Regions from separate parts of the Homo sapiens genome. Here region 2 is linked to region 1. The links come from fine-mapping of genetic effects on gene expression. A gene starts in region 1. The other region holds a variant in brackets. All regions are shown on one strand. Distances are between the middles of the regions. Region 1 holds the start of SERINC1 (serine incorporator 1). Region 2 overlaps PKIB (cAMP-dependent protein kinase inhibitor beta).

Region 1 (4,000 bases):
TTTTGTTTTTTTTTTTTTTGACACAGAGTCTCACTCTGTTGCCCAGGCTGGAGTGCAGTGGCGCCATCTTGGCTCACTGCAGCCTCCGCCTCCTGGGCTTAAGAGATTCTCCTGCCTCAGCCACCCGAGTGGGATTACAGGTGTGCGCCACCACATCCGGCTGATTTTTGTTTTTTTGTTTTGTTTTGTTTTGTTTTCTGAGATGGAGTCTTGCTCTGTTGCCCAGGCTGGAGTGCAGTGGCATGATCTCAGCTCACTGCAACCTCCGTCTCCCAGTTCAAGCAATTCTCCTGCCTCAGCCTCCCGAGTAGCTGGGACTACAGGCATGTGCCACCATACCCAGCTATTTTTTTTTGTATTTTTAGTAGAGACGGGGTTTCACCATATTGACCAGGCGGTCTCCCACTCCTGACATCAAGTGATCCATCCACCTCATCCTCCCAAGTGCTGGGATTACAGGCGTGAGCCACTGCAGCAGGCTCTGAGTGTTACTTTTGAAAAGCTGAATAAATTTTAATTTCATCAAAACCTCTAAGTAAATGAGCACATTAACTGTTAAGAATGTGGAAGAGATGGTCCCCTTCAATGACTATTGGCCTGCAGTAAAATCAAACAATTAATGAATAGAGACAGAGGCACAAGGAAGAAAAGGGAAAAAGATTACTGAAACTGCAAACAATAAAATAAATTCCAAACTGAGCACGGTAGCACCTGCCTGTAGTACCAGCTACCTGGGAGGCTGAGGTTACACTTAAGCCCAGCAGTTCCAGGCTGCAGTTCACTACGACCATCCCCTGCACTTCAGCCCGGCCAATACACTTAGACCCCCATCTCTAAAAAACTGCCTCACTGCTTCTACCTTTTTAATGTACTTCGCTATTAACACAGAAACTAAAAGGCAGGGTCAATTTTATCACGGACATTCTTCTAATCAATAAAGGTGGCGATCTATTTTGTAAAAGGGAAAACATGTATCTCATCTTTTAAATCTCTATTATATACAAAAAACTACAGCACGCCCACTTCATAACTGGACAAGATACGACATTACAAATTGAATTGCATAACATCTTCCAATAAAAAACCGATGAAAACAATCTTATATGATAATCAATTATCAGTTTTCAAAACTGTTTATCACACTAAATATGCCTCTTTTGTATAAAAGTCAATAATTAAACTCTCTAATATCTTGAGATAAAATATTCCAGGCTTCCGTGCAAGAAGAAATACCATATAATCAAAAGAACAGACTGGCTGGAGTAACAATCCCCACATTATTATTTGATTAAAATTCAACATTTTTAGTTCAAGACATATCAAAACCTTTAAGAGTATATATAACGGAATCATTTGGGAAGTCAGAAAAGCAATTGTTAGAAACAGAATTAACAAATTCCAGACTAAAGAAAAGTGATTTGAGTCCAAATACCTCGCCTAAAATTACAAATATCTTTATTAACTGCACTGCCAATGTTTTGCCTACTATTTTGGAGGGGGCAGAGATTATCTTAAATAAACTGAAATTTGTGCCACACGGACCAAAGTCTTGCCACTATACTGAAAATAGTTTTACTCTAACAACTCTTTAATGAAAATGCAATGTACAGCTAATTAAGCATGAAATTTCAGATGACACACGCATGTTTTGTGCCTAAAGACAAAATTGTCATTAGGCACAAGGCATGCGTGTGTCATCTGAAATTTCAATTTTAAGTTGAAATCTGAAATTGACACTTCAAACAGTTACGGCAGAGCTATGACTATTTGTTTCAAAAACAATATTACTACATTAGCATTACTGCCAGGCGGTTCCAAATGACGACAGGCACTTTTTAATCATAATCTGCGCCACTGAACAAAGAGGGCGACATGAATCCAGGAACGACAGTGCGGCAGTCTGAGGTCGCCAGGAAAGAGATGACAACAGAGTGGGTACCCCACCGAAGGAAAGGGGCAAAGACCTTTGTAGAGATGGCCTGCGCAGATACAAACAAAACCACGAAAAGGGACCTCAAAGAATGGGAGACAGCGTTCACGAAGCAGGGGTGGGGGAGGGGCCCTATTCTAGTTCTCTTCCTCAATTTGAGTCATCTTCCCATCGCCACTAAACCTTACGGCCAGTGATCAGTTCTTCGCAAGACCCAAAGCTCTGAAGCTGAGTCTGAGTGACGAGAGGAGACGGGAAGAAAACGGGGACAGAGAGGGCACTCCCTGTTGGGTGGGGCACCACATTCCCGCCGGGCTCACCCAGCCCCGGCTCGGATCGCCTTCTCTTTGGTCTCTCACACTAGCACCCCAGAGGCCGCAAAAAGCACCTTACCCAGCTCGCCATGGAGCACAGCCCCAGGACGCTCCCCATCTCCACAACGTCACAAGAGCAGCGGATACAGACAAGATGGAGACAGCTTCTTTCTCGCCTTTCCGAGATTATTTACTATCTGCGAGACACTTCCGGACGCACAGCGCAACCCGCCCCTCAGCCTCGCGTCACTTCCTTCCAGGCCTGGGTAGGATAAAACACGGAGCGCGCAGCGCTGAGACTGCGCATGCGCGTCACTAGACGACACGGCTGTCTTCTTTCCTGGAGAATTTCTCAAGGACTGCTGGCTGGAAACTTAACGGCTAATGTGGATCTGACCGTAGTTTGCCAAATTAAGAAAACGGTGTGAGCAAAACCCACCTTTACCTACCATGCACTTGCATTTGGGCATTAGTAGAGAACAGAGCTGAGGTGGTGGTTGACGTTTTGCCCTCCTTCATCTGAGGAACCTCTCTGCTTTTTAGGGGATTGCTTCCTCTTTCTCAGTCTTTGTCCGTCCTAACTCCACTTATTTCCCATTTTTCCCACGTTTGCATCCTGTTTTGCTCTTGCGTTTGCAACGTATTCCTGCAGCCCGCTGCCCGGAACAAGTTTTATTGGGATATTTATATTCATCTGTGTGCTTCAGTTTCTCTGTATCATTTCTGTTTGCTATTGACTTATATTTTAATTTCTTATGCTATTAAGATGTTACAAGAAATTTGCACGTTAAAATTATTTTTAATTAGTTAGATAAGACATTATCAAACTCAAACATTGATTTCGAATGTCATGAGCTGTTGAGGCATGTGGAACCCTTGCATATTAGGTGATGATGCACATCTGCAGGGAATGCATTCCTATAAAAGTTCCAGTTATTTTTTTAGAGTTATTTGTTCTTGAAAATATTCTGGGAAACAGCTCAAACTTGAAATAGTCATTCCCATAACTAATAATAAGAAAGTGTTGTAAAATCTACAAAAATTGCATGGGTCGAGGTGGGGTAAACACCTAAGAATCTGGAAGAATGTCAGAATCCCTACTCCTAGTTATTGTAACCACTAAGGGACAATCTTGCTTTATTCTTCTTTGCCTTATCTGTGGTTTTGTAGACCACTCTTAAAGCAAAGTATTATAATAGAGCATCCATAAGGTTTAAAGAATTGTGGAAATGCTTGTAATCCCAGAACTTTGGGAGGCTGAGGCAGGCGGGTCACAAGGCCAGGAGTTCAAGACCAGCCTGGCCAGCATGGTGAAACCCCATCTCTACTAAAAATACAAAAAATTAGCCGGGCATGGTGGCACGCGCATGTAATCCCAGCTACTCGGGAGGCGAGGCAGGAGAACTGCTTGAACCCGGGAGGCAGAGGTTGCAGTGAGCCGAGATTGGGCCACTGCACTCCAGCCTGGGCTGCAGAGCGAGACTCCGTCTCAAAAAAAAAGAATAGTGGAAATGGAAATTACAAACCTAACAATATTTTTAATTATGCTAAACTTAATACGTTATTTATGGGAGAAGAGAATCCTAGTATCTCAAGTCCTTAAACTTTTCAAAGTACCAGAGAAGGAGACAAAAAACACTTATATGTGAGTAACTTTAAGGTCGTAAAGAATATGTTTATTAGCCAAATGGAGAATGGGTCTCTTAAAATTTAAATTTGCACAGATTCTTGTCTCTTGCTCCATTTAAGAGGGTTT
Region 2 (4,531 bases), 220 kb after region 1:
TTAGTGAAGAGTTGAATTGGTTTGCTAGTGTTTTGTTGAAGATTTTTGGATTGATATTCTTTAGGGATATTGGTGTGTATTTTTCTCTTTCGGATGTGTCTTTGTCTGGTTTTGGAATCAGGGTAATATTGGCATTATGGGATGAATTTGACAGTATTCTTTTCTTCTGTTTTTTTTGGAATACTTTGAGTAGGACTGGTATTAGTTCTTCTTTAAATGTTTGGTAGAATTTAGCAGTGAAGCCATTGGGTCTCAGGCTTTACTTTACTGGGAGACTTTTTATTATGGCTTCAGTCTTGTTACTTGTTATTGGTCTGTTCAGGTTTTGTATTTCTTCATGGTTCAATCTTGATAGATTGTATGATAGATTGCATGTCTAGAAATTTATCCATTTCTTCTAGATTTTCCAATTTATTCCATATAGTTACTTATAGTAGCCACTAATGAGCCTTTCTTTTTTTTTTTTTTTTGAGACAGAGTCTTGCTCTGTCGCCCAGGCTGGAGTGCAGTGGCGCGATCTCGGCTCACTGCAAGCTCCGCCTCCCGGGTTCACGCCATTCTCCTGCCTCAGCCTCCCGAGTGGCTGGGACTACAGACGCCCGCCACCACGCCCGTCTAATTTTTTTTTATTTTTAGTAGAGACGGGGTTTCACCATGTTAGCCAGGATGGTCTTGATCTCCTGACCTCGTGACCCGCCCACCTCGGCCTCCCAAAGTGCTGGGATTACAGGCGTGAGCCACCACACCTGGCCGATCCTTTCAATTTCTCTGGTATTGGTTGTAACATCTCCTTTTTCATCTCTAATTCTATTTATTTGGGTCTTCTCTCTTTTTTTCTTAGTCTGGCTAAAGGTTTGTCAATTTTGGTTATTTTTCTAAAAACCGAATTTTCGTTTTATTGATCCTTTGTGTTATTTCTTCATTTCAATTCCATTTACTTCTGCTCTGATGTTTATTTCTTTTCTTCTACTAATTGTGGGTTCAGTTTTCTCTTGCTTTTCTAGTTCTTTAATATGCATCATTGAGTTGATCACTTGAAATTTTATTCTTTTTTGATGTAGGTGCTTATTGCTATTAACTTCCCTCTTAGTACTGTTTTTGTGAATTCCACAGGTTTTGGTATGTTGTGTTTCCATTATCATTCGTTTCAAGAAATTTTTCAATTTCCTTCTTAATTTCTCCATTGATCTACTGGTCATTTAGGAGCATATTGTTTAATTTCCATGTGTTTGTATAGGTTCCAAAATTCCTCCTGATTTCTAGTTTTATTCCATGGTAGTCAGAGAAGATGCTTGATATTATTTCAATTTTTAAAATGTTTTAAGACTTGTTCTGTGGTCTAACATATGGTCTATTCTTGAGAATGTGCAGTATGTTGAGGAGAAAAATGTGTATTCTGCAGCTGTTGGATAAAATGTTCTGTAAATATTTATCAGGTTCACTTGGTCTATAATGCAGATTAAGTCCAATGTTTCTTTGTTGATTTTCTGTCTAGCAGATCTGTCCAGTGCTGCAAGTGGGATGTTGAAGTCTCCAGCTATTATTATGTTGGGAGTCTATCTCTCTCTCCAGCTCTAATAATATTTGCTTTATATATCTAGATGCTCTAGTGTTGGATGCATATATATTTAAAATTGTTATATCCTCTTGCTTAATAGACCCCTTTATCATTATATGACCTTTGTTTCTTCCTATAGTTTTTGTCTTGAAGTACATTTTTTTTGATATAAGTATAGTTACTCCTGCTCTTTTTTGACTTCCATTAGCATGGAATATCTTTCTCCATCTTTATTTTCTGTCTGTGTGTGTCTTTGTAGGTGAAGTGTGTTTCTTATAGGCAACAGATCATTGGGTCTTTCTTTTTTTTTTTAATCCATTCAACCACTCTGTGTCTTTTTATTGGAGAATTTAGTCCATTTACATTCAATGTTACTATTGATAGGTAAGGACTACTCTTGCCATTTAGTTGTTTTCTAGTTGTTTTGTGGTCTTTTCTCCTTTCCTGCGTTCCTTTTAGTGAAGATGATTTTCTCTGGTGGCATAGTTTAATTTCTTACCTTCTATTTTTTTGTGTATTTGTTGTATGTTTTTTGATTTCAGGTTACCATGAGGATTGCAAATACTATCTCATAACCCGTTATGTTAAACTGATGACAGCCTAACACTAATTGCATAAACAAACAAACAAGCAAAAAGAAATCTAATAAAAACTCTATACTTTAACTTCCTCTCCCTGCTTTTTTAAGTTTTTGATGTTTCTATTTATATCTTACTATACTGTCTATGTCTTGAAAGGTTGTCTCAGTTATTATTTTTGATTGGTTCACCTTTTAGTCTTTCTACTTAATATAACAGTAATTTACACACCACAATTTCAGTGTTATAATATGCTGTATTTTTCTGCGTGCTTATTAGTAACAGTGAGTTTTGTACCTTCAGGTGATTTCTTCTTGCTCATTAACATTTCTTTTTCTTTCTGATTGAAGAACTCCCTTTAGTATTTCTTGTAAGACAGGTCTGGTGTTGATGAAATCCTTCAGCTTTTGTTTGTCTGGAAATGTCCTTATTTCTCCTTCATGCTTGAAGGATATATATATATATATAT[T/TA]TTTTTTTTTTTTTGCCAAATATACTATTCTAGGGTAAAAGGTTTTTTTCCTTTAGCCCTTTAAATATGGCATGCCACTCTCTCCCGGCCCTAAATTTTCCACTGAAAACCCTGCTGCCAGACATATTGGTGCTCCATTATATGTTATTTGTTTCTTTTCTCTTACTGCTTTTAGGGTTCTTTCTTTATCCTTGACCTTTGGGAGTTTGATTATTAAATGCCTTAAGGTAGTCTCCTTTCAGTTAAATATTCTTGATATTCTATAACCTTCCTGTACTTAGATATTGATATTTTTGTTTAGGTTTGAGAAATTTTCATTATCTTTTTGAATAAACTTTCTACCCCTGTATCTTTCTCTACCTACTCTTTAAGGCCAATAACTCTTAGATTTGCCTTTTTGAGGGTATTTTCTAGATCTTGTATGAGTGCTTTATTCCTTTTTATTCTTTTTGCTTTTGTCTGCTCTGACTGTATTTTCAGATAACTTGTCTTCAAGGTCACTAATTCTTTCTCTGCTGTATCAATTCTGCTATTAAGAGACTCTGATGCCTTCTTCAGTATGTCAATTTTATTTTTCACCTCCAGAATTTCTGCTTGATTCTTCTTAATTATTTCAATCTCTTTGTTACATTTAACCGATAGAATTCTGAATTGCTTCCCTGTGTTATCTTGATTTTTTTTTTAACTTTCCTCAAAACAGCTAATTTGAATTCTCTGTCTGAAAGGTCACATATCTCTTTTTCCCCAGGATTGGTCCCTGGTAGCTTATTTAGTTCATTTGGTGAGGCCATGTTTTCCTGAATGTTTTTGATGCTTGTGGATGTTCATTGGTGTTTGGGCCTTGAAGAGTTAGGTATTTACTGTAGTCGTCTCAGTCTGGGCTTGTTTTTACTTATCCTTCTTGGGAAGCCTTTTCAGGTATTTGAAAGGATTTGGGTATTGTGATCTAAGGCATATCTGCATTACAGGGTACCCCAAGCCCAGTAACACTGTGGTTCTTGTAGGCTTGTAGAGGTACCACATTAGTGATGTTCAATAAGATCCAGAAGAATACTCTGTATTACCAGGCAGAGACTCTTGCTCTCTTGCTTTACTTTCTCCCAAACAAACAGAGTCTCCCTGTCTGTGCTGAGCTGCCTGGAGCTGGAAGAAGGGTGACACAAGCACCCCTGTGACCACCAGTGCTGGGACTGCTCTGGGTCAGATCTGAAGCCAGCATTGCATTGAGTCTTGCCCAAGGCCCGCTGTAACCATCCCCTGTCTATAGCCTATGTTTGCTCAAGGCCCTAGGGCTCTACGATCAGCCAGTAGCAAAGCCAGTCAGACCTGTGTCCTCCCTTCAGGGCAGTGAATTCCCTGGCACATTGAGTGAATTCAGAGATGTCAAATGGGAGCCAGGAACTGGAGTCAAAACCTCAGGAATCTGTCTGTTGCTCTATTCTACTACAGCTAAGCTGGCACTCAGACCATGAGACAAAGTCCTTCCCACCTTCCCCTCCTTTCCACAGCCAGAGGAATCTCTCTCTGTGGCCACCACCACAGCCCCATGGGGAGTACTTCCAGGCCATTGCTTATTTTCACTACTTGCCTAAAGCTCTTCAGTCAGCTTGTGGTGAATGCTTCCAGGCTTGCGACTCACCCTTCAGGGCAGTGGGCTCCCATCTGGCCCATGGCAGGTCCAGAAATGCCATCCAAGAGCCAAGGCCTAGAATTGGGGCCTCACAAGGCTGGTTGGTGCTCTACCCCACTGTGGTTGAGCTGGTACCTGATTTTTGGTTCTTATAAAGGTGTAGATAGTTGTTAAATTAAATTGTTGTTTCTGTCAGGGGGACAATAGGTAGAGGCTTCTATTCAGCCATCAAGATCTATCCCTCATCTGGGCTACCTTATTTTAGATTAAAAATACATCAAAGAAACATTATGTTT

Evidence for each region. PIP is the estimated chance that this variant, and not a neighbour inherited with it, causes the effect.
Region 2: its variant is the best candidate, but not a certain one, in a credible set for the expression of SERINC1 in whole blood (INTERVAL, PIP 0.81).

What each region holds. Positions count from the first base shown.
Region 1 is chr6:122,469,376-122,473,375 of GRCh38, forward strand. SERINC1 (serine incorporator 1) reads right to left here and starts at 2,432. Exons shown (of 10, transcript NM_020755.4): 1 at 2,324-2,432. The coding sequence starts at 2,362. It also overlaps a transcript of PKIB not described here. RefSeq lists enhancers at 2,082-2,481, 2,532-2,591.
Region 2 is chr6:122,688,329-122,692,859 of GRCh38, forward strand. All of the region lies in intron 3 of PKIB (cAMP-dependent protein kinase inhibitor beta), which reads left to right. Among named protein-coding and RNA genes, the nearest start is that of PKIB, 80 kb to the left of the region's middle. The variant T/TA (reference allele first, on the strand shown) is at 2,606.